Linked DNA regions of Homo sapiens. The protein of the gene in region 4 purifies or fractionates together with the protein of the main gene of each other region. This does not show direct contact. Each region holds a gene or a part of one and is shown on either strand. Other genes may lie near its edges. The genes, in order: RABL3, NT5C3A, ORC4, MFSD8, MSMO1, TPM3 and ITM2C.

Region 1 (3,500 bases), on a different chromosome or scaffold from region 4:
AGATATTCACTCTTATCACTCCTAGTTAGTACCCTTTTGGAAGTTGCTGCCAGTGCGAAAAGGCAAGAAATAAGACAACAAGCACACAGATTGAAAAGGAAGAAATAAACCTGTCTATGTAGAGCATCCTAAGGATTGTACTAAAAAACTCTGGTCACAAGATACAGGTCAGCACTCAGAATCAATTCTATTTTTTTTTATACTAGCAATGGAAAATTTGAAACTGAAGTTTAAATATACCATTTATGGCCAGGTATGGTGGCTCATGCCTGTAACCCAGCACTTTGGGAGGCCAAGGCAGGTGGATCACCTGAGGTCAGGAATTCGAGATCAGCCTTGCCAAGATGGTGAAACCCTGTCTCTGCCAAAAATACAAAAATCAGCCAGGTATCCCAGCTACTTGGGAGGCCGAGGCACAATAATTGCTTGAACCTGGGAGACAGAGGTTGCAGTGAACTGAGATCGTGCTACTGCACTCCAGCCTGGCAACAGAGCAAGGCTCAGTCTCAAAACAAAACAAAACAAAACAAAAAAACAATTTACAATAGCTTAAAAAATATTAAATATTTTGGTATAAATCTAATAAAACATGCACAGGATTTGTATGCTGAAAACTACACAATGCTGGTAAGAGAAATAAAAGAAGATCTAAATAAATTTAGAGATATATTGTGTTCATGAACTGGAAGATGCAACAGAATAAAGATGTTAATTCTCTCCAATGTGATCAATAGGTTCAATGCAATTCTAATAAAAATCCAACCAAAATTTTTGTCAATATAGACAAGCTGATTCTAAAAATTCATGTGGAAAAACAAATAAACTATAATAGCTAAACAATTATGAAAAAGAATAAAGTAGAAGGAATCATACTGCTCAATTTTAAGACTATAATTAAGACAGCGTAGTACTGGTGAAGGGACAGACACATAGATCAATGGAACAGAACTAGAGTCCAGAAGTTGACTCATACTAATATGGTCAACTGATTTTTGGCAAAGGAGCAAAAGCAATTCAATGGAGAAAGGATATCTTTTCAATAAATGGTGCTGGAATAGTTAGACATTCATATGCAAACGTTAACCTCAACCAAAACCTCCCATCTCGTACAAAACTAACTTAGATCATAAATCTAAATGCAAACCTATAAAACTTAAAATGTTTTATATAAATGTTTTACTATAAAAATGTAAAACCATAAAATCTGTAGAGGAAAACATAAGAGAAAACCTGCATCATCTAGGATTAGGCAAAGAGTTCTGAGACATGATATCAAAAGCACAATCCATAGAAGAAAAGAAGAGTAATCAGACTTCATCAAAATGAAAACTATTGCTTTGTGAAAGATACTGTTAAAAGGAAAAGATAATCTATACACTGAAAGAAAAATCTTTGCAAATCAAACATTTTACAAAGTGTTATTCAGGGAAGTACATTCCTGTGATTGCTACAATCTTTCAAACCAATTGTGAAATTGGCTCACCCATTTGTCACCAAGACTCCAGTTGGCACCAAATCCCTGTTGAGAGCTTCCAATGACCAACGACGCAAGTTTTGGGAGGACTTCTTATTTGTTAAGTCGTGTACGAAAATAATACCTAAAATAATCAGAGAAAACAATGTTAATCCCTTAACAATTCCTCTTCATTTCACAATTGGCCAAATGAAGCTTAGTAAACAGAAGCATTAGGTTGCTTAATGAATCTAGCATTCTAGTATGACTAACAACTCAGAGACAATTATTTTAAAATTTTCTCTACAAATATTTATAAATAGCCATAAACCTTTCTCTGTCAGTTTTATAACTCTTTATTTTACAAGGGCTGACGAAATCCCATTAAACTTTTAGCAGATCTTTACTTCATTCAACACTTCCTGAGTGCCTACTCCATGCCTGTTCCTACCTGTAGAACCACTTTATTAATCAAGAGAATCAAAACTACTTCAAGTACATATGAAATTATTCATTCAAAAAGTTATGTTGTTTCTTCACTGTACACAGTACTGCCATAGATACCAGTACATACATATATTACTTATACTCACTAAAAGTAATATTAGGTAATGAAAATCTACTAAAATAGTACTGATTTGATACAATTGCTATTCTTTAGCTGACAAAATAGTGTCCTGTAGATCATCTGAGACTAATCTATTCAAATGTCTAATTTTCTAGTTCTTTGAATAATGATTAGTTATGTAAGCTTCCTACCTGTAAGAGATTTAGTTATTAGAGCAAAAGAAATATGCCACTATAAGAGAGTGGGTGAGACATTAAATAGTAAAGAAGTATGGATAGTAGAAAGTACATGCACGGATTTTGATAGATTGAGAAAAATAACAAAATGTAACGAGGCCCAGAAATACACTAAAATACAACTGAAGAGAATCAATTAAAATCCTAGATAGAAAGGAAAATCAGGGAATTAATTATTACAGCAAGATATAGACAAAAGAGGAAAAACTTTGATGCCCACTAGAATTTAGGATATCACCTTATGGTCAAAACACTACAGGTTTCAAACTCCCAACCCTTTTCTATATTACCCAGATTGTGAATAGGACATGAAACCAATGATTCCTCCATCTTCAAGAGGTGGTATGTGTCAATTTGAAAAAGAAAAGCAGAAGAGGTAGAATTAGCTGGCTTCTACAGTTTTTATAGCCATCTGTGTAACTAAAGGGCTTGTACAAGCTATAGCTGACTTGTTCCAGCCAGCTTAGATAAACCTGCATCTCTTCTGGTGTCTGAAACTAATAGAGATCTGACACTTGCCCTAATATCCAATTGTACCCACTCTTCCTTCCTCAATGAGGGGTTTTAATCAGCATCAGTGGCACAGATTTAAAAAAAGGAATAAAGAACCACCATTAAAGACTACAGCTAATATTTATTCAGTACTAATGTACTAAATATTGTGCTTTACATGTGTTATCTAATTTAATTTTCAGAACAGTCCTATGAAGAATTATTATTATCTTTATACACAAGAGAAAACTAAAGTTCAGAGAAGTAGAGTAACTTGTCCTTGGGCACATGGTAAGTCAGAATTTGCACTCAGGTAATCTGACAGTAAAGACTGGTGGTAAGCAGAATAAAATCTCCATTTTAGGGCAAAAAACTGGCATATATTTTCTCCCTTTCCTTTTCCCCAGGCTATAAATATGGCAAAACTATGGGTGAGAATTTTGGACGGGGGAGTAAAAGAATTACAAAGGCCTAAGTTGGCTATTAGATGGACAGGGAAGACTTTACTGAGGATCTTTAGGTAAGACTTTTGAGCTTTTAAGGGCATTTGAGTACCCTTTTCCCCTATTCTTTCTCTTTCATTTGGGCTGAGAGTTATTGCTTTGTAGAACATGTGCTAGAAGAATCAAGGTGGGGCTGAGATGAAAGGAGTCAGGGTGATATGATAATATATCTTAATCTTAAGGGAGAGAAGTAAAGACACTTCATTATTTCCTTCTGAAGGATTACTAGCCTAGGCTATTAGAGAGGG
Region 2 (3,500 bases), on a different chromosome or scaffold from region 4:
AAAAGTACAAGTAATTTTTTTAGTCTTGGTTAAAATATGAATTGTTTTCTCTGTACATTGTGGATTGTATAACCCTTAGTTTATTTTGTTTTTTATTTTTAGTTTAAGAATAATAATTCATTATTTTAAATATAATGTATTTATGTGTGTTTTTTAATACAAAATCTTTTTATTTATTTATTTTTTTTTTGAGACAGGGTCTCACTGTGTCACCCAGGCTGGAGTGCAGTGGCATGATGTCAGCTCACTGCAACCTCTGCCTCCCAGGCTCAGGCAATCCTCCCACCTTAGCCTCCGAGTATCTGGGACTACAGATGTGCACCACCATGCCCGGCTAATTTTTGTATTGTTTGTAGAGACAGGGTTTTGCCACGTTGCCCAGCCTGGTCTCGAGCTGCTGAGCCCAAGTGATCCTCCTGCCTCGGCCTCCTAAAGTGCTGGGATTACAGGCATGAGCCACCATGCCCGGCCGTGTTTTCTTTTTTAATCAAAATTTAATATAATTTGAAATCTAGTTCAAACAGAATTAAACTTTGAAGTTGTCATAATCTCATCCTGGAAATTAGGATTATCCCTAGTCTGGAATATTATCATTGGATTGATGATACCAAGCCACACCCAGAAATTTGGTAACTGTACTATGGAGCTTCTCTCTTTTTTTTTTTTTTTGTTTTTTTTTGAGGCAGAGTCTCGCTGTCGCCCAGGCTGGAGTGCAGTGGCGCGATCTCGGCTCACTGCAGGCTCCGCCCCCCGGGGTTCATGCCATTCTCCTGCCTCAGCCTCCAGAGTAGCTGGGCCTACAGGCGCCCGCCACCTCGCCTGGCTAATTTTTTGTATTTTTAGTAGAGACAGGGTTTCACCGTGTTAGCCAGGATGGTCTCGATCTCCTGACCTCGTGATCCGCCCGCCTCAGCCTCCCAAAGTGCTGGGATTACAGGCCTGAGCCACCACGCCTGGCCAGAGCTTCACATTTTTATCTTATCCCAGTGTATCCACAAGATCATATCAAATCTAATATTAAACAATTGAGTTGTGGATAAAATGGCATAACTTTGAAATCCATTTCATCTCTATAAATATATTAAGTATTGGTCAAAATAAGTGAATTTTAGGTCTTTCTTAATCATTTTTGGTGTTGATTCAGATTGGCATCAATCAACCAACATACCCTGATTCTTTTCAGGAAGGCATTGCTCCCTCCCCAACATTTTACGCTGCGGCTTTACCATAAAATGAATTTGTTCTCTTTTTATCACAAATGATGGAAATTTTTAGCTTCTTATTTATTTTTCATAAAATTTTATCATAATCAAATTGAAAATTTTTCAGACAATTCAAAATACCTTGCCCTTCAAATTTGAAGTATCATTATTTATATGCCACCAAACCAAGTCTGTGTTTTTATAAGAGGGATATAGACAGAAGGACTTTGTGGAGGTAACAAAAGTATGTGATCTCATGCAACAGTTGGGGCATGTTCAACAACAACCACCACAACAAAAAGTATGTGATGTATTTCATCATACTTCTACAGTGTGCTTATATTATGATACTCTTTGACATATTCCATACAGGAGTCTTTGATTCTCTTTCTTAGGCTATATTGTAAAGTATTTGAGTAAAATACCCCATATCTCAAGTTCTTGTGAAGTATTTCTCATATAGATCAGTGACATTAATTGTGTATTGCAGGAGAGGAGTATAGTATACTATATAACCCAAGACAGATAGAATGGTCATTTTTATATTTCTTATACCTATTTCATCATTATTTTACTCCCGTGCCATTTGTGTATTCACTACTTATGAATACACAATGAAAATGAATGGTTGTATGTTGCACAGGAGCCACCAATGCCTTTAGCTACTGGTTCTCTTTCATCCATTGTGATTTAAAGTAAACCAGTATTGGCTGGGCATGGTGGCTTACACCTGTAATCCCAGCACTTTGGGAGGCTGAAGCGGGGAGATCACTTGAGCCCAGGAGTTTGAGACCAGCCTGGGAAACACAGCAAGACCTTATCTCTATAAAAATAAAATAAACCAATCTTACATTTGTTAGTGTAGCAGAAACCAGCCTTCTTCGAAGTGGTCTTGGTGTGATTCTCCTATCCGTTATCAAAAACTTGAAGCTGTGATTTGCCTGAGGTAAGACATCTTGGGTACACTGAAATCAAATATTTAATTTTTTTGGTGAAAAAATAGTCTATGATATATATCCTGTGTTGCTTTCACCATAATGGATTGGTTATTGAATCAAACATATGCTGATTGCTGTGCATCTGCCAGTTAAGGCTGAGGTAAGAACAGAAATTAGTTGTCAAGAGATAAACTTACTAGCTGAGGTATTTGTAAGGGAGTTACAGAAGTGATATTCCAAAACAGCAGTGGTCCCTAAAACTCAGCAGAAAAGCAGAGTAAATACTACTCATCATCATATCCCTAGCATTTAGCAAGAGTGTGTGGCACAAAGTAGACACATGGTAAATATTGGTTAGGCGAGTGAATGGGTTAATGTATGAAAAAAAAAAATAGGAACCAGTGCCTATCTGCCTTTCCATCTATTGAAAAATCACTATAAAATACATAGATAACCTTTAAGCCATTGAAACTCATCCAGTTGAGTTAAAAGGATTACTACATCAAGGTTAGTTGCATTGCAGGTCATCCTACTTAAATATGGCTTTTTAAAATTAAATATATTGTAGGTGGTAGATCTTTCATCCATGGAGAAAATTTTAATGTTAGCATTTGTCTTTTCTCTACACTTTCTTTTTTTTTTCAAGCTCTGCCTCCCGGGTTTACGCCATTCTCCTGCCTCAGCCTCCCAACTAGCTGGGACTACAGGCACCCGCCACCACGCCCAGCTAATTTTTTATGTTTTCAGTAGAGACAGTATTTCACCATGTTAGCCAGGATGGTCTCGATCTCCTGACCTCGTGATCTGCCCACCTCGACCTCCTGAAGTGCTGGGATTACAGGCGTGAGCCACTGTGCCCGGCCTCTTTCCTCTACACTTTCGTTATCATCTTCCAGTCTTTGGAAGACAGTCCATCCTTTTTCTGATTTTTCTACTCTTGCCCATTATGTAGGAACAACACGGCATCTGATAGATTTACGTGGTGAGATTCTCTTGTAGCAAAGATAGAAGGTCCAGGGAATTTTTGTAACCATGTCCATGACACACATGAACTATGTTAATATTACTAATAACATACCCAGAATAAAAACATATAAATAAAGATTATCCAGTACAAACCAGTATAGAACTTGGATTTGAGGTACTATTATTGCCTATGCTGTATAACTGACTATAAAATGAGGCATAATTTTCTCCTTCTAGTTGTATTGTACATGTGCTATGAGAGCTTGTACTGATTTTTCCTCTAATCAGTTTCATTCTATTTGTGATAAAATAGCTAGTAACAAGAAATAATACTTAAGATTAAATTGTTGAGCAACCCTAAAGTCTTCATAACTCTGTAGTAGCAGCCTACACC
Region 3 (3,500 bases), on a different chromosome or scaffold from region 4:
TATATAAAATAAAATTATCTAAAATATAAACCACATACAGATAAAACTAAAGCCTCATTAAAGTTTACTTCAAACTAATAACATAAATCCTAAAGCTTAACTGTGATGTTCTTTTGAGATAGAATTTAGGAGAAATGACATTTCAACTGTCTAAGAAGAAAATTTTTAAAAAGTATATAATTTGTATTACTGCAGCATTATCCTTCAGCAATATTAGAAACTTTGTGTTAATTTACTAATTTCTAAAATTTGTGTTTTAATTGCTTTAAATCATATAGCAAGGAACATTTAGCTTTATTGCCTTTTAAGATACCTGAACATTTTCATTCCACTTCTCAGCAAAAACCTTGTCTGGAAACTCTGCAGGTAGAGATAACTGTTCTTTAAATATTTTAACATACTGTGGAAAACCAAATGAATTCATTAAGTGTATCTGCCGGTGAGAAAATCTTGACTTCACTCTTTTTTCTAAGAGTTCCAAAATATCCTTAAAAACAAACAGAAATCTCTATAAGGAAGATGAATGTTTTTAAAAAAACAAAAACACTGTACCAATGTTAGAGGTATAAGTAAACTATCACCTATAATTAGTAATGTTTAGTCTACAATACATAATTAAACATTTAAAACATTTTATGCAAACTAAATAATCCACCTCCAGGCATTTGCTGGCTTGGTGATGTCATGCCTTTTTCCCACCATGTTACTCTCAGCTAATCTGTAACATTCCAAGACCCAACATGACTGTTTAAAAAAACTGACAATATTGAATAGCTATATGTCACAATAACACCAAGAGTGTCAATAAGGAATTCTGTACATTCTATGAAGAACTGAGATTAAAAAATTAATAGCATGATAGGCAGCAGGAACCAACTTTAGGAGAGGAAAGTGGCAGAAATGCAACATGGCATTCGTAAGTTATCTTCCGGCTTTTTTTTTTTTATAGTAATGCTTTTAGACTCTATTTGTATTTGTGCTATTTTTCCTTAAAAAGAAATCAGGAATCAAATTTACTGTCAAAGAACACTAAAAACCAAAGGATAACTAATATGTACTGCTTGTAAGGACATACGAAGTGTTCTTAAATGAAGAAAATACTTCCACAAAACTGATAGGCATTCAAACTATCCAAGACATCAAAAGCACAATAGGTAAGCTGTCTTCCTAAGTCACATATATTGCAGGAACTGTCATTCCTAAATCTCTTTTTAATAATGAACTTGAGCAATTTTTCAAAATATATTATAGTACACAGCATATTATATATAATATATATAATTTATATTATATATGTATATATACATCTATATATATACAGTATAGTATAATATATATTTATTACTTAAGTTACACTCCAAGGTATACAACCAAGACAAATGAAACCAGATAACCACAAAAAAAGTGTATGTGAATGTTTGCAGCAGTATTATTTTTAATAGCTTAAGAAATATAAACAACCCAAATGTCCATCAACTGATGAATGGATAAACAAAGTGTGGTATATCTACACAACAGAATATTATTTGGTAATAAAAAGGAATAAAGGGCTGATATATGCTGTAACACAGATCAACTCTGAAAACATGTTAAAGAAGCCAGTCACACAAAACTATACGTTGTATGATTCAAAAATTACTAAACAGTCAGAAAGTGGATTAGCAGATTAGTGGTTGCATAGGGCTGGGGAGGGAACAGGGGATTTGGGGTGATCACTAAAAGGTACGTGGCTCTTAAACTGTGGTGATAAATGCACAACTCTATGAATAAACAAAAACCCTGTTAATTGTATAATTTAAATGAGTGAGTTGTATGGTATAAATTACATCTCAATAAAGCTGTTTTAAAAACAGTGACATGATATTTGATGACTTTAAGGAATTACAGCTAATATAACAATTATATTAGGGAAATATATTTTTAAAGAGCTCTTATCTCCTAAAAATACATTCTAAAATACTTACTGATAAAATGATATAATACCTAGTTTTTGCCTCAAAATAATACAGGAATGAAAGGAGATGTTGAGGATAAATAAAATTAGTCTGTAGTAATTGAATCTTGGCAATGAGTGGAGAAGGGAATTCAGGGCTCATTATTTATTCTTTCCTATGTATATTGTTGAAATGTTATAAAGATTTTTAAAAGGGGAGTAGTTTAAGCCCAGAAATATACATCTCCACATCTAGCCAGATGACTCTCATAATACCTACGTGAAGAAATCATGATATAGAGGAAAGAATTCAAGTGATCAAAATGGGATCATGGTTAGTTTGGGAAGGTGGACAGGAAAGACTAATAGCCTGAGGTAGGAGGTGGGAGGGTGAATAAAAAATTTTGAATGTTTTTATGAGGTCAAAGAAAAGTATAGTGCCAGCATGAGAACTAAAAGACAAGAAAGGTTATATTCAGAGATTCAGATATTGTACATTTATTTTCTATTAAGAAAGAGTTCTAGGTCACCCATATAGGTAGACAGTGGAAGTAATAATCTATACAAGCAACAATTCAGACCCTAAATTTGGGAATGAAAAGAGATGGAAGTAAATACTGTCTTTGTAGTAGGCAGTAATGACAGAAGTTGGCAATGTGGGCATACAGGAACTAGTAAAAACAAAACAAAACCAAAAAACAAAAATGGAATTACTCCCAATGGGGAAGAAGATGCTTGCTGGCAAAGTCACTACTCCCTCTATACTTTTGTTCTCTCCCTATAAACGTGGATACACAGATAAAATTATACTTGAGGCCAGGCGCAGTGGCTCACGCCTGTAATCCCAGCACTTTGGGAGGCCAAGGGGGGTAGATCACGAGGTCAGGAGTTCGAGAGCAGCCTGGGCAACATGGTGAAACCCCATCTCTACTAAACATACAAAAATTAGCCAGGCATGGCGGTGTGTGGCTGTAATCCCAGCTACTCGGGAGGCTAAGGCAGGAGAATTGCTTGAACCCCGAAGGTGGAGGTTGCAGTGAGCCGAGATTATGCCATTGTACTCCAGCCTGGGCGACAGAGCAAGACTCCATCTCAAAAAAAAAAAAAAAGAAAAAGAAAAAAAATTACACTTGAAAGAACTACACAGTTGGAGAATTATATATATACAATAAAAAAGAACATCTGATAACACTGCTAAGAAGTTACTGGCATTTTATTTGGTCCGTTATTGGGTCAACAACACTCACCACAGCCACTTCCACCCAAAGGAAGATTTTTTTTTTTTTGGCAAGAAGGAGGATGCTTCTTTGATCCTTGTCATCGCCTGCTGCTTTTGGCAAGGAGGAATAAAGATATGTGGAGCACCAGCCAGTGATGTATGAGGGATGTTTATACTAAAGCCATGTATCATAAGCTCTAGAGCACAGGAAAGGAGGGGCAAATGACAGTCACTCTATAGAGAAACAGCACTGGAAGGAGGACTGTTGAAATATGAATTAGAAAAAAGTTTCACTTTTCTGAAAAAGAAAAAGGGTTGTAGGAAAGGAGATGTGAACATGTAAATGTG
Region 4 (3,500 bases):
TTTTTGAGACAGGGTCTCACTCTGACATCCAGGCTGGAGCGCAGTGGTCCGATCACGGCTCAGTGCAGCCTCGACCTTTGAGGCCCAAGTGATCCTCCTGCCTCAGCCTCTTGAGTAGCCAGGACTACAGGTATGCACCACCATGCCCACCTAATTTTTTTATTTTTGTAGAGACAGGGTCTCCCTATGTTGCCCAGGCTGGTCTTGAACTTCCCGCCTCCAACTCTCAAAGCAATCCTCCTGCCGCGGGAGGGAGGAATTCTCCCACCTTGGCCTCCCAAAATATTGGGATTAGTGGCATGAGCCACCGCACTCAGCCAGATTACTTTTTTTCATATGTGGTAGGCTAAGCCAGGCGAAGTGGCCCATGCCTGTAATCTCAGCTACTCAGCAGTCTAGAGTAGAAGGATCCCTTGAGCCCAGGAGTTGGAGGCTGTAACACACTATGACTGTACCTGTGAAAAGCCACTGCACTCCAGTCTGGGCAACATAGGAAGATTCTATCTCTAATCTTCCTATTTAATGGCTTTTATTAAATTTTAGGAAATAAATTTAAACAAATATAGATAAGTGGTAGAACAATTTAATAAGGAAAACTATGACCTTTTGTTCCCTAAAGATATTTATTTATTTATTTTATTTTATTTATTTATTTACTTTTGAGACGGAGTTTTGATCTTGTTGCCCAGGCTGGGGTGCAATGGTGCGATCTCAGGTCACTACAACCTCTACCTCCCAGGTTCAAGCGATTCTCCTGCCTCAGCCTCCCAAGTAGCTGAGATTACAGGCATGTGCCACCACGTGGGCACAGCTAATTTTTATATTTTTTTTAGTAGCGACGCGGTTTCACCATGTTGGCCAGGCTGATCTCTTAACTCCTGACCTCAGGTGAGCTGCCTGCCTTGGCCTCCCAAAGTGCTGGGATTGTTGGTGTGAGCCACCGTGCCTGGTAATTCCCTAAAGATATTTAAAGTGAAAATATTTAGGTGCGTTTTTCTTTATGAAAAAAATAAGAAATAATATGCAAAAGTATAATGATACATAATATTTAAAGTTCTAGCCGTTAAAATATCTTTCATTTTAGGTACTCTGGTTTTCATTTTCTTCCTGTATTACCTTTAGCTTCATTTGTCATCTCTACTAAAATAGAAAATAATAATTTCATGTTACATAAAATTTTAATTTTCAAAAAAGCAATGAAAACTCAATTTTAATGTTAAATGTGTAGTGGTTTGAAAGCAAAACTTTTTTTTTTTTTTTTTTCTGAGACAGGGTCTGGCTCTGTCACCCAGGCCAGAATACAGTGGCATAATCTTGGCTCACTGTAACCTCAAACTCCTTTGCTCAAGAAATCCTCCCAACTCAGGCTCCCAAGCAGCTGGGACTACAGGGAGTAGCACCACCATACCCAGATAACTTTTTAAATTTTTTTGTAGAGACGAGGTCTTATATCGTTACCCAGGCTGGTCTTGAACTCTTGGGCTCAAGCAATCCTCCCAACTTGGCCTCCCAAAGCGCTGGGATTACAGGCACGTGAGTCACAGCACTGGGCCTGATAGCAAGACTCTTTAAAGAGTTTTCAAAATATCTGGAGAAAAGAGAGTACTTTTCAAAACTCAACATAGTATGCTGAGTAGACCTAATCACTACTAATATCCTTCTTTTGAGAATTTTGACTAAAAAGACTAAATGCCAAGAAATTAAGAATTTTGATACATGAAAATATCTTTTTAGTAGAGAAGACGTTGCTCCAGAATTGTGCCAATTCCAATGACTACCAGCATGGAAAGAATTTTTAGTGTAATGGGTAATAATTTCATGTAATATTATTTTCAAAATAGCAATGAAAATATGGCACTAAACCAGTAAAAAGTAAAATTTGTATTTCTTTTCTTCTTATATTCCTTTAAAAATATATTTTAGGAGAGCATTTTCAAAAAGTAGAAATTCGTAAAAACTGGGCTGGGCATGGTGGCTCACACTTGTAATGCCAGCACTTTGAGAGGCTGAGGTGGTGGGTCACCCAAGGTCAGGAGTTTGAGACCAGCCTGGTCAACACAGTGAAACCCTGTCTCTACTAAAAATACAAAAATTAGCTGGGCGTGGTGGTGCACGACTGTAATCCCAGCTACTTGGGAGGCTGAGGCAGGAGAATCACTTGAACCTTGGAGGTGGAGGCTGCAGTGAGCCAAGATTGCATCACTGACCTCGAGCCTGGGTGACAGAGCGAGACTCCATTTACAAAAAAAACCACAAAAATTAAAAAAAAAAACAATCCTAACAATCTAGACAATCTAGTAGGGGAGTTAAGTAAACTCTCTGTAAATACAGTGTTAGGACACTCCATATTAAGGGCTAATGATAAAGGGAAACGGGAGTATACAGGAAAAGCTTCTGACCCAAATTGTTGTGAGGGACAGTGAGAGAAGCCTTTCCAGGCCAGGTGCAGTGGCTCACATCTGTAACCCCAGCAACTGGGGAGGCTGAGGCAGGATCACCTGAGGTCAGGCGTTCGAGATCAGCCTAGCCAACATGCCGAAAACCCACTTCTACTAAAATTATAAAAATTAGCCAGGAATGGTGGCGGGTGCCTGTAATCCCAGCTACTTGGAAGGCTGAGGCATGTGAATCGCTTGAACCCAGGAGGTGGAAATCCCAGCACTTTGGGAGGCCGAGGTGGGTGGACCACCTGAGGTCAGGTAGAGATCAGCCTGGCCGGTATGGTGAAACCCCGTCTCTACTAAAAATACAAAAATTAGCCGGGTGTGGTAGCTGGCGTCTGTAGTCCCAGCTACTTGGGAGACTGAGGCAGGAGAATCGCTTGAACCCTTAAGGCAGAGATTGCAGCGCACCAAGATCACGCCACTGCATGCCAGCCAGGGCAACAGAGCAAGACTCCATTGCAAAAAAAAAAAAAAAAACAGAGAGAGAGAGAAGGCTTTCCAGAGGAGGTGACACTGGAGCAAAACCTTGAAGAGTGAATAAAAGACAGTGAGGAAGGAGAAAGGGGAGAGCAAAAGAAAGATGGAGAGAGGAAAAGCATTCCAGTAAAAAGGGAGACAAATGTGTAAAGACCTGAGGAGCCTGGGTTCATCCAAGTACCATGGATTTATCTAATAAATTGTTGGCTATACATCTAATATGGGACAAAGTTCAGAATCTAGGATAAAACACACATATGCACGTGTGAACACACACACACACACACACACACACACACACACACTCTCTCTCCAACCTCATAGAAAAACCAACAAGGGATAAACTGATAAGGAAGAATACACAAAAGAATTTAAGAATAAGTCATTAGAGTTAAGAGGAAAGCCAGGATAGAGAAATGTCACAGAAGCTAAGAGGTGGTGCCATGGTTTGAATGTGTCCCCCAAATTTCATTTTTTGGAAATTAATATTTAAATTAATATTATTAAAATATTGAAAGGTAGGACCTTTAAGAAGTGACTGTGTTACATTAGGTAGCTAGTTGGGTATGAACAGGGCAG
Region 5 (3,500 bases), about 37 Mb from region 4:
TAGCTCAGTGAGTTGTGTGGGTGAGTTAAGCAACCTTTTTTATTCTTTTTTTTTGAGACGGAGTTTTGCTGTTGGTGCCCAGGCTAGAGTGCAGTCACAGCTTACTGAAACCTCCACCTCCTCATTTCAAGCGATTCACCTGAACTCCTGACCTTAGGTGATCTGCCCGCATCAGCCTCCCCAAGGTGCTGGGATTACAGGCGTGAGCCACCATGCCCAGCTGAGTTAAGCAATCTTTATGTAGAGCTCTCCTTTGAGAAAGAAGTTGGTTGGTTCAAAGAAAGATAAATGGGACAGTGGCTTGGAAGAGGTAATGGAGGCTAGGAAGGTGTTTATCAACAAAGGAAGATGTAGGCTGGGCGCAGTGGCTCACACCTATAATCCCCACACTTTGGGAGGCTGAGATGGGAGGATTACTTGAGCCTAGGAGTTTAAGACCAGTCTGGGCAACATAGGGTGACCCCTGTCTCCACAAAAAATTAAAAAAATTAGCCAGGCGTGGTGGCATGTGCCTGTGGTCCCAGCTACGAGGGGCTGAGGTGGGAGGATTGCTTGAGCCTGGGAGGTCGAGGCTGCAATGAGCCATAATTGTGCCACTGCACTCCAGCTTGGGTGACAGAGTGAGACCCTGTCTCAAAAAAAAAGAAAAAAAAAAAGAAAAGACGTGAATGTGTTTTTAGACCTGAAGGAATGGATTCCATGAAGGGAGAAGGATGAAAGATGGGAAAGGATAAGTGATGGACAAGTTCTTGAGGTAAGATAAGAACACAGGAAGACTAGTCAGTCTTAGAGGAAAGAATGAATGAGCAAAGAAATTTTAAGGCCTGTAATGACACAGGATGGAACACTATAGTCACTGTGGTGTAAGTCATTTGAGATGAGTAGGACAGAAGGAGGACGGCCTGAAGTGAATTCAGATGCCTGGAGGAGTTGGCTAGGTTCTCAATATTCCTTCTGTAGAATGGGATAAAAGGTCAGTTTGAGAAGTGTTGGGGAAGGGGACTTTTAAAGCACTATTTAGAATGCTTCTGAGGCTTTAAAATACTCATTTTTAAAATGGTCCAAAAAATTCATAAATTAGAAGCAGCAGTGGTGAACATTTTTAGGAAAGTGACCCTTGAGAAGTTTATTTTTTGGTTAGTGACCTATTGAGCTTATTTATTAGGTAAGTAGAACATGCTCATTTAAAAAGTTTAAATTGTGCAAAAGACATATGTCAGATTTTTTTTTCTGTCTTCCATAACACTATTTCCTACCCCGCCGCGCTCTGTCTTCCGTAACACTCTCCCCTACCCCGTCGCCACTCTGTCTTCCATAACACTGTCCCCTACTCCACCACACTGTCTCCTACCCCGCCGAGCTGTCTTCCATAACACTCTCCCCTACCCCGCCACGCTGTCTTCATTAACACTATCTCCTGCCCTGCCACACAACTCTGTTTTCCTAGAAGTCACCAGTGTGAATTTTTCCCTTTATCCATATGTACATTTTTTGTTTCTGTGTGTCTGTGTATATACATATGCATAAAAGTGCATAGATAAAATACATATCCTTTTCAAAAAATCTTAAGTGGGGCTCTTGCTATGCATACTGTTCTGTAACTTGTTACTTGGATTAACACTGTATCTTAGACATCTTTCTATGTAGAGCGTATAGATCTTCCCTGTTCTTTTAAATGGCTGTATAATTGTCTATGGAAGGACTTAATTTATTTAACCCATACCTTGTTGATGGCTTATTTGTGTTTTGCTTTTATTTTTTCCTCTTTGTTTTTGCTGCTACAAGCAATGCTTCCTTCCATCTTAGCGGATCTGTCTTTGTACCCTTGAATGAGAAAGTTGCTGGATCAAAGGATGTATTCATTTTGAATTAGGTGTTGCTAATTTTTCCTCCAATGATACACTGATGTATCCCCCCTGCCCACAGTGTGTGGTCATGCCTGTTCTCTCACCCTCTTACCAGTACTGGACATTAATAAGCTTTTAAAGATTTGCTACTCAGGCTAAAAGTGTCTCTTTGTTTTAGGGTGCATTTCCTCATTTAATGAAGTGAAGATTCTTCCTTGTTTAGTGACCATTTGCCTTTATTTTTCTGTGAACTGCTTGTGAATGGCATTTGTCGTTCTTCTGTTGTCTTTTTAGTCTTTTTTCTAAAGCACACTTTGTAGCCCTTTGTTGTAAAATGTTGGAAATATTTTTCCCAGTTTGTCATTTAATCTTTGACTTTGTCTTTCTATTCCCCAGTAGGAGGTACTTAATTTTTATATACTCATATTTGGCAGGCTTTTTCTTTATAGGTTCTTTTGGCTTTAAGTGATACTTTTAAACCCAGCTATTGCTCATTTAAATTAGAACCTTTTCCATGAGAACCACACTGACGATTTCTTTAAATATAGCTTGAAAAAATTTTTCCCCTATTGTTCTTTTAGCTATTGTTCTTGAAAATAATGTGTTTTTTAAAGGAATATCTACAAATAGAAATGGTGATGATATCCAGCAAATGTTTTAAAATGGTGTAAAACCATTTGTACTCCTTTAGTAATTTTTTGGTAAAAAATTTATACTCCTTTAGTAATTATCATTTTTAAAATGATCAGAGGATGCATTTTTTAACTGTTTTATTTTTTGAAAGCTCATTGTTTAACTTATTATATATGTATTCATTTCTACAGAATTATAAGGCTGTCTGCAGAGATTTGAAAAATGGCAACAAATGAAAGTGTCAGCATCTTTAGTTCAGCATCCTTGGCTGTGGAATATGTAGATTCACTTTTACCTGAGAATCCTCTGCAAGAACCATTTAAAAATGCTTGGAACTATATGTTGAATAATTATACAAAGTTCCAGATTGCAACATGGGGATCCCTTATAGTTCATGAAGCCCTTTATTTCTTATTCTGTTTACCTGGATTTTTATTTCAATTTATACCTTATATGAAAAAATACAAAATTCAAAAGGTGAGTATAAGGGACTAGAAATAGAATATTATCATTAATGTTGCTGAATATTTTAAAAGTACATAGGGCTTTGTTTTGTGAGGCTAAAGCAGTGATATCCAATAGAAATATGAAGCCACGTATGTAATTTTAAATTTTCTAGTAGAATACATAGAAAAGGTAAAAAGAAATAAGGAAATTAATTTCATAATGTGTATCATTTAGCTCAATAAATGTAAACTATCGCTGGGTGCAGGGTCCATGCCTGTAATTCCAGCACTTTGGGAGGCCAAGGCAGGAGGATTGCTTGAGGCCAGGAGTTCAAGACCATCCTGGGAAACATAGCAAGACCCTGTCTCTACAAAAAAGATACAAAAATACCCAGGCATGGTGATGTAAGTCCTAGCTACTTATGAGGCTGAAGCAGAAAGATTGCAGCACTATACTCTAGCATAGGCGACAGAGTGAGACCTTGTCTCAAAAAAAATAAGAAATAAATGTAAATTATTATTTCAATCAGTAATCAAATTCTAAAAAATACTTAATGAGATATTTAATAAGTCT
Region 6 (3,500 bases), on a different chromosome or scaffold from region 4:
TCGGGAGGCTGAGGCAGGAGAATTGCTTGAACCCAGAAGGCAGAAGTTGCAGTGAGCCGAGATCGCGCCACTGCACTCCAGCCTGGGTGACAGAGTGAGACACAGTCTGAAAAAAAAAAAAAGAAAAACAACAAAAAAAGAAACTTTCCCTACAGGCACTGCCATGCAGGATTTCTGGAAGCACAATAGTAAAGAGACTTGAGAACGTTATCTTCCCTCTTATTTCTTTGTATTCCTCCCACCTTCCCAGTAGGTAATCGTGATAAATTTTTCTTCTGGGACAGCTCTCTTTTCTCCTAGAAAATTAGGATGTGGAACAGGACTTACAATGAAGAGTCCTAATCCCTGAAAGGAATAGTAGGCAAGACAGTTGCTGCCCTCAATGTCTAGTTCTAAGAATGCTCCCTGCAGAGCCTCTGTTTTCCTATCACCTTTTGGAAATACCGAGCAATGAGACTATTCAGAAGAAACAACTTGGATAGATAATAATTTTCTCAATAGAGTAACCTGCACACTGATTTTTCCCCCAGAAATTAGGAAGGAAGATCAGGGTTCTGACTCTTAATAGACTCTACCCTGATGGCCTAAGAATTTTTCTAACTTGCTTTGTAGAAGTCTGATCAAGATGTGGCAGAAGTGACACTTTGTCATCTGGGTGCTGCTCAGCAGGGGGCACTATTGTACCTCCCTGTGCCCTGGTAAAGCAGCAGAAGACCTCATCCTAGCCAAACCAAGAGGGTATTGAGAGCACCACTGCATTTCTGAGACTGGTAGATTTGAGCAGATAATCTCCTCTTAATGCAGTCAAACAGATGGACTGACTCATGATAGCCTTTAGAAGCACAATGGATAGACAGCAAGGGGCCCAGTGCTATTGTGTTCCTAGTAACCAGCAATACAATATATCAACAGGTGTATATGTCCATCGTTGTCCCTTCTCTCCCCATCCTTCCTGCCACCTGTCCCTAAAAAATGGTGTTATGACTCTATGTCCTAACAATGCACTCCTCTTTCCCTTTGTTTCTCCCTAAACAGCATCTGATTTCATCTTGGATTAAAATGATCTTAGATGTGGTTGCACAACAATGTAAATATGCTACTACTGAATTAGACATTTAAAAATGGTTAAAATGGTAAGTTTTATGTATGCGTATTTTACCACAACTTAGAAAACAAAGTTAGACAAATTTAGGGAGGAAAAAAAAGTTTGGACTCGCCTTGCCATACCCTTGCCCTTTCTTTATTCAAGCAGTCCTAGTAAATCCTGCACTTTTCAGAAAGGCTTCTCAGATAACCAGAACTGCTTGTGTAAACACGTAGTTATTGACTCCCTCCTCCTTCTCTACTGCTTATATCTACTTCAAGATAATATGCTCTGTTTACTTATTTATTAACCTCAAGGACAGAAGCTGAGCTGTTAACTTCCTTTGTATTGGACAGAGTATACTCCCTCCAAAGATGCATATATTATGCTGCTGATGACTCTTACCTTTGCTTTCTGCTTTTAACCTTGTTGGTCCTTATTCAGCACCTCTCCCAATTCCTATAAACACTGTCCTTCTTTGACCCTTTGAGGCAGGGGTCATCCAACTTTTAGGGTCTTGTGGCCAGAGAGATAAGAAAGCCAGTAGACAGTATGTACAAGAATGAGCATGACTGTGTTCCGATAAAACTTTATTTACAAAACCAGGCTGTTGCAAGATTTAACCCACAGGTGGTAGTTTGCTGACTCTAGCTTTGAGGAAAGAAACCTTTCTTCTTGCTTGCTCCTGGCCACAACCTTCCCTCTCCTGTTTCTTGTTCTTATGCATATCTCTGAGGGTACTTTCTGACTTGGGAAAGCTAACAAAGGGGAGAGGGGTTGAATGAGTATTTTTAACCCTCACTTTACATATTTAAATGGGTTTTGGTGGATTCCTATGTAAATATGAAGAAACTTCTTTCAAATGAATATACTGAGTAGACCACATCTAGGTGAGGGGTGCTATGTGTGTGTATGTGTATGTCTGTACATGTGTAAAACAGATTAAGATAGACAGAATTCATCCCCAGGAAATCCTTTTATATTCCTAATGATTTTGATGTATTGCGTACAGCCTCTATGTTATTCTCCTTCTCATGATCTCAGGTTAGACTTGTTCTTTTTCTTGCTCCTGGAAACACCTCCTCAAGCCCACATACTAGCCGTTTCAGCCTAAGAGCAGACCCAGATTGATGTTACCCAATTTCTCACAAAACTGTTATTAACCTGACATTGTGCTAGTTTGTGAAAACTTCTATCTTCATGCCCATATGTTAGAAACAGAGAGATCCATCCAAATATACCAGGAACCTAGGCTATACAACTCCAGCCAGCCATCCACTTGCCCAAAGCCCAGGGGTAACCTGTAGATTTGGTAGGGTTGTTTGTTTGTTTGTTTTGTTTTGTTTTTTTGAGTTTTCTGAGAAGGGAGAATTTTTATCATTTTAAATAGAGACAGGGTCTTGCTCTGTCACCTAGGCTGGAGTGCAGTAGCATTATCATACCTCACTGCAAGCATGAACTCCTGGCTTCAAGCGATCCTCCCATCTCAGCCTCTGGAGTACGCGGGACTACCGGCACATGCCACCACACCTGGCTAATTTTTAAATTTTTTGTAAAGATAGGGCCTCACTATGTTCCCCAGGCTGGTCTTGAACTCCTGGCCTCAGGCGATTCTCCTGCCCTGGCCTCTCAAAGCAAAGTGCTGGAATTACAGGTCTGAGCCACCACACTGGGCACAAGAAGGGAGAATTAATAGTTTGTGGCGGCCTGGCCGGGCGCGGTGGCTCACACCTGTAATCCCAGCACTTTGGGAGGCCGTGGCGGGCGGATCACAAGGTGAGGAGATCGAGACCATCCTGGCTAACACGGTGAAACCCCATCTCTACTAAAAATACAAAAAATTAGCCGGGCGCGGTGGCGGGCACCTGTAGTCCCAGCTACTCAGGAGGCTGAGGCAGGAGAATGGCGTGAACCCAAGAGGCGGAGCTTGCAGTGAGCCAAGATCGTACCACTGCACTCCAGCCTGGGTGACACAGCAAGACTCCGTCTCAAAAAAAAAAAAAAAAAAAAGCCTGTGCTGGCCTTAACTTTTGGAAGAATGAGTTTAAATGATGTATATTTAGTTTGTGTTTCTAACCTCTGGCATAATATATTCAATTCTTACCACTTTCCTTGGCCACTGAAAGTGGTGGAAAACAAAACAGATCAGAAACCTAATGGCAGAGGCCAGGCATGGTGGCTCACATCTGTAATCCCAGCATTTTGAGAGGCCAAGGTGGGTGGATCACTTGAGGTCAGGAGTTGGAGACCAGCCTGGCCAACATGGTGAAACACTGTCTCTACTAAAAATATAAAAAATTACCCGGGCATGGTGGCAGCTGCCTGTAATCCCAGCTACTCAGGAGACTGAGGCAGGAGAATCACTTGAACCCGGGAGGTGGAGGTTGCAGTGAGTCGAGATCTTGCCACTGCATTC
Region 7 (2,404 bases), on a different chromosome or scaffold from region 4:
TGGGGTCCACCTAGACATGGCTCTGGCCAGCTCTCCTGCCGCTTCCAGAATTCTCTGGAGAATGTGACCCTGTGATTATCACACCAAACCTCACTTCAGATCCTCCAGGAATGGTTACAAATTGTCCAGACGTGGTGGAGAATAGGACACCGCCCTTGTGCTTAAGGACATGCAATAATGATGTCATCTGCCAGGTAGAACATTACAGGGTGGTTTACAGGCACTTAAAGCAGCACGACCTTGGGCGAGTCGGTAAGCTCTCCCAGCCCTGTTCCCCTCCTCACCCGGAAAGTGTGAACTCTACCTGGCTCAGATCCAGGGTGCTACGAAGGGGATATCCTACACTCCTTGGCTGAATCCAGGATGCCCAGCTCTTTAGGGGCCAGATGTCAAGGTCTGCAGGCTTCTCCCTGCCTGCTGCTCCCGAGGTCCAGCTCCTCGACCCTGCCCGGAGCACCCCTCCTACACCCATCTCCCCTCCAGCCACACTCAAGTCAAGGTCAGAAGTAAAAGATTTTTATTGTTCTATAGACACTTCTGAAAAGAGATCTAATTGAGAAAATATACAAAGCATTTAAGAGTTTCATCCCCAGAGACTGACTGAAGGCGTTACAGCCCTCCTCTCCAAGGCTCAGGGCTGAGAACGGTTAGCATATCGAATGATCAGTAAAAACATGCAAAAGTGAGAAGGAAAGGGAAAAAGGTGCATTCCCCTAAGCTGAGGGGGATGGAATTTCAGAACAGAGGAGGCAGGGTGGACAAGTACCAGGTGGCTCTCCCTTTCCCTCTGTGTTATCTTTCAAAACAGTTCCAAGCTTGGAGAAAGCAATGAGCTCCACCTACTCAGCAGAACCCACGGCTCGTCCCCCGTGGACGTGACTGAGCAGTGACCTTGCCTGCCCCGTTCCTCAGCCGCCCATCCCACTGCCTTGACTGAGGGGACCCTGCTTGTGCTCCTGGGGGGCAGGACTGGGGGTCCTAGCTCCTTGCTTCTTTGGTTCCACTCAGAGAACAGTTGTGCTTGACGGACTCATCCCCACTCCCCAAACTCCAAGCTCCTGCTGGTGGGCTGAAGGCACTGACAGAGTCCCTGGGACACCCCCAGGTAGCCACCTTCTCTTGTGCTCTGGTGGGTCCCTCCCTGGGCACATCGTCCCATCCTCAGCTCAAGCCCCAGGTCTAGGAATAGGGACAGTGAAGAAAGTGTACCCTCCAAGAAAAAGCTTCTGAGGACTTTTCTAATTGTGCAGATACTTCTGAAGCCCATGCCGCCCCGCCCCCACAGCCCCATCCCCTTGCCCAGGGCCTCACATGCCCGGCTCCCCCAACCGGTCCTTCCCCTTGGGCTGCCGGTGCAGCTGTGGGCCCAGGCTTTGGCAGGCCCAGCTTCAAGACAGTGGGACACAGAAAACACTTTGCAGCATCGCCTCTCCCTCCGCCACACCCAGGTCAGCAGAGATGGGCCCCCCACCGAGAGATCACAGCTCTGGTACAGGGAGGTGGGCAGGGTTGGAGAGGAATGGAGAGACATGTCACCTCTATAGAAACGCGTCCAAAGTACAAGCTAAGCAGGGGGAAGGAGGAGGGCCAGAGAGCAGCCGGAAAGAAGAAAAGAGGAACACGGCAGGGGGTTCTGGGGGAGGAGGGCCTCACACCACCCCGCAGATGAGCGTCTCCACCACGAAGGTGTTCTCGAAGTGGCGGATGGCATTGCAGTTCTTGGCCCCACGCTTGTTGATCCCTGGGAGGAAAAAGAAAAACCCCAGTGAGCCCTGCATCCTGGCTGAGTCACAAAGACCACCAGCCTCAGCCTGAGCCACAGGAGGGCCAGGAAGTGACACCATTCACCCAGATTCACCCAAAGAGCACAGTGAGAAATGGGGAGAGCTCGAAAGCTGGAGTCAGCCTGCCCATGTCTGCCACCTCCCTGCTGTGTGACCTCCAGGGTGTTAACCTCTCTGCACCTGTTTCCTCATCTTTAAAATGGGCAGCAAAAATAATAATGAGGATGAGAATGACTTACACTCTTAAGAGGTCATAAAGAGCACACAGCATTGCCCGGCACACGGAAGTGCTCTGCTAATGCTAGCTGTTATTGCTGCTGCTATCTGAGCTCTCTGACAGCTGGGCTAGGCGTGAAGATAACTGTGGTCTGGGGCACGGGACAGGGGCTACTGTGGGTGAAGCCAGCCACTCACGCCTCCGCGTTGCCCGGCGCCGGAGCCGGTAGGTGTCTTTCCCGTTGCACAGGTGGTAGATGAAGGACCCCAGGGCCTCCTTGTCACTGACATGCTCCGTGACCACCATCTCCTCCTGGATGATGTACGTCTGCGGCAGGTAGGTCCCCCTCTGCAAAACAAGGTGGCCGCCACAGTGAGTCGGCCCCTCAGGCTTTCGTCCAACC

The links.
Region 1: the proteins of MFSD8 (region 4) and RABL3 purify together in Homo sapiens (affinity purification with mass spectrometry; one large-scale study listed by BioGRID and IntAct). This does not show direct contact.
Region 2: the proteins of MFSD8 (region 4) and NT5C3A purify together in Homo sapiens (affinity purification with mass spectrometry; one large-scale study listed by BioGRID and IntAct). This does not show direct contact.
Region 3: the proteins of MFSD8 (region 4) and ORC4 purify together in Homo sapiens (affinity purification with mass spectrometry; one large-scale study listed by BioGRID and IntAct). This does not show direct contact.
Region 5: the proteins of MFSD8 (region 4) and MSMO1 purify together in Homo sapiens (affinity purification with mass spectrometry; one large-scale study listed by BioGRID and IntAct). This does not show direct contact.
Region 6: the proteins of MFSD8 (region 4) and TPM3 purify together in Homo sapiens (affinity purification with mass spectrometry; one large-scale study listed by BioGRID and IntAct). This does not show direct contact.
Region 7: the proteins of MFSD8 (region 4) and ITM2C purify together in Homo sapiens (affinity purification with mass spectrometry; one large-scale study listed by BioGRID and IntAct). This does not show direct contact.

The regions. Positions count from the first base shown.
Region 1 is NC_000003.12:120,704,517-120,708,016, forward strand, and holds part of RABL3 (rab-like protein 3), read right to left. Parts: intron 1,599-3,500; coding exon 1,484-1,598; intron 1-1,483. UniProt on the Homo sapiens protein: Required for KRAS signaling regulation and modulation of cell proliferation. Regulator of KRAS prenylation, and probably prenylation of other small GTPases. Required for lymphocyte development and function. Not required for myeloid cell development.
Region 2 is NC_000007.14:33,028,277-33,031,776, reverse strand, and holds part of NT5C3A (cytosolic 5'-nucleotidase 3A), read left to right. Parts: intron 1-2,062; exon of another isoform or gene 2,063-2,148; intron 2,149-3,500. UniProt on the Homo sapiens protein: Nucleotidase which shows specific activity towards cytidine monophosphate (CMP) and 7-methylguanosine monophosphate (m(7)GMP). CMP seems to be the preferred substrate.
Region 3 is NC_000002.12:147,947,738-147,951,237, forward strand, and holds part of ORC4 (origin recognition complex subunit 4), read right to left. Parts: intron 488-3,500; coding exon 314-487; intron 1-313. UniProt on the Homo sapiens protein: Component of the origin recognition complex (ORC) that binds origins of replication. DNA-binding is ATP-dependent. The specific DNA sequences that define origins of replication have not been identified yet.
Region 4 is NC_000004.12:127,944,674-127,948,173, forward strand, and holds part of MFSD8 (major facilitator superfamily domain-containing protein 8), read right to left. Parts: intron 1-3,500. UniProt on the Homo sapiens protein: Outward-rectifying chloride channel involved in endolysosomal chloride homeostasis, membrane fusion and function. Conducts chloride currents up to hundreds of picoamperes.
Region 5 is NC_000004.12:165,330,669-165,334,168, forward strand, and holds part of MSMO1 (methylsterol monooxygenase 1), read left to right. Parts: intron 1-2,671; 5' UTR 2,672-2,702; coding exon 2,703-2,957; intron 2,958-3,500. UniProt on the Homo sapiens protein: Catalyzes the three-step monooxygenation required for the demethylation of 4,4-dimethyl and 4alpha-methylsterols, which can be subsequently metabolized to cholesterol.
Region 6 is NC_000001.11:154,185,601-154,189,100, forward strand, and holds part of TPM3 (tropomyosin alpha-3 chain), read right to left. Parts: intron 1,843-3,500; exon of another isoform or gene 1,658-1,842; intron 1-1,657. UniProt on the Homo sapiens protein: Binds to actin filaments in muscle and non-muscle cells. Plays a central role, in association with the troponin complex, in the calcium dependent regulation of vertebrate striated muscle contraction.
Region 7 is NC_000002.12:230,877,345-230,879,748, reverse strand, and holds the end of ITM2C (integral membrane protein 2C), read right to left. Parts: intron 2,350-2,404; coding exon 2,199-2,349; intron 1,742-2,198; coding exon 1,650-1,741; 3' UTR 501-1,649; downstream 1-500. UniProt on the Homo sapiens protein: Negative regulator of amyloid-beta peptide production. May inhibit the processing of APP by blocking its access to alpha- and beta-secretase.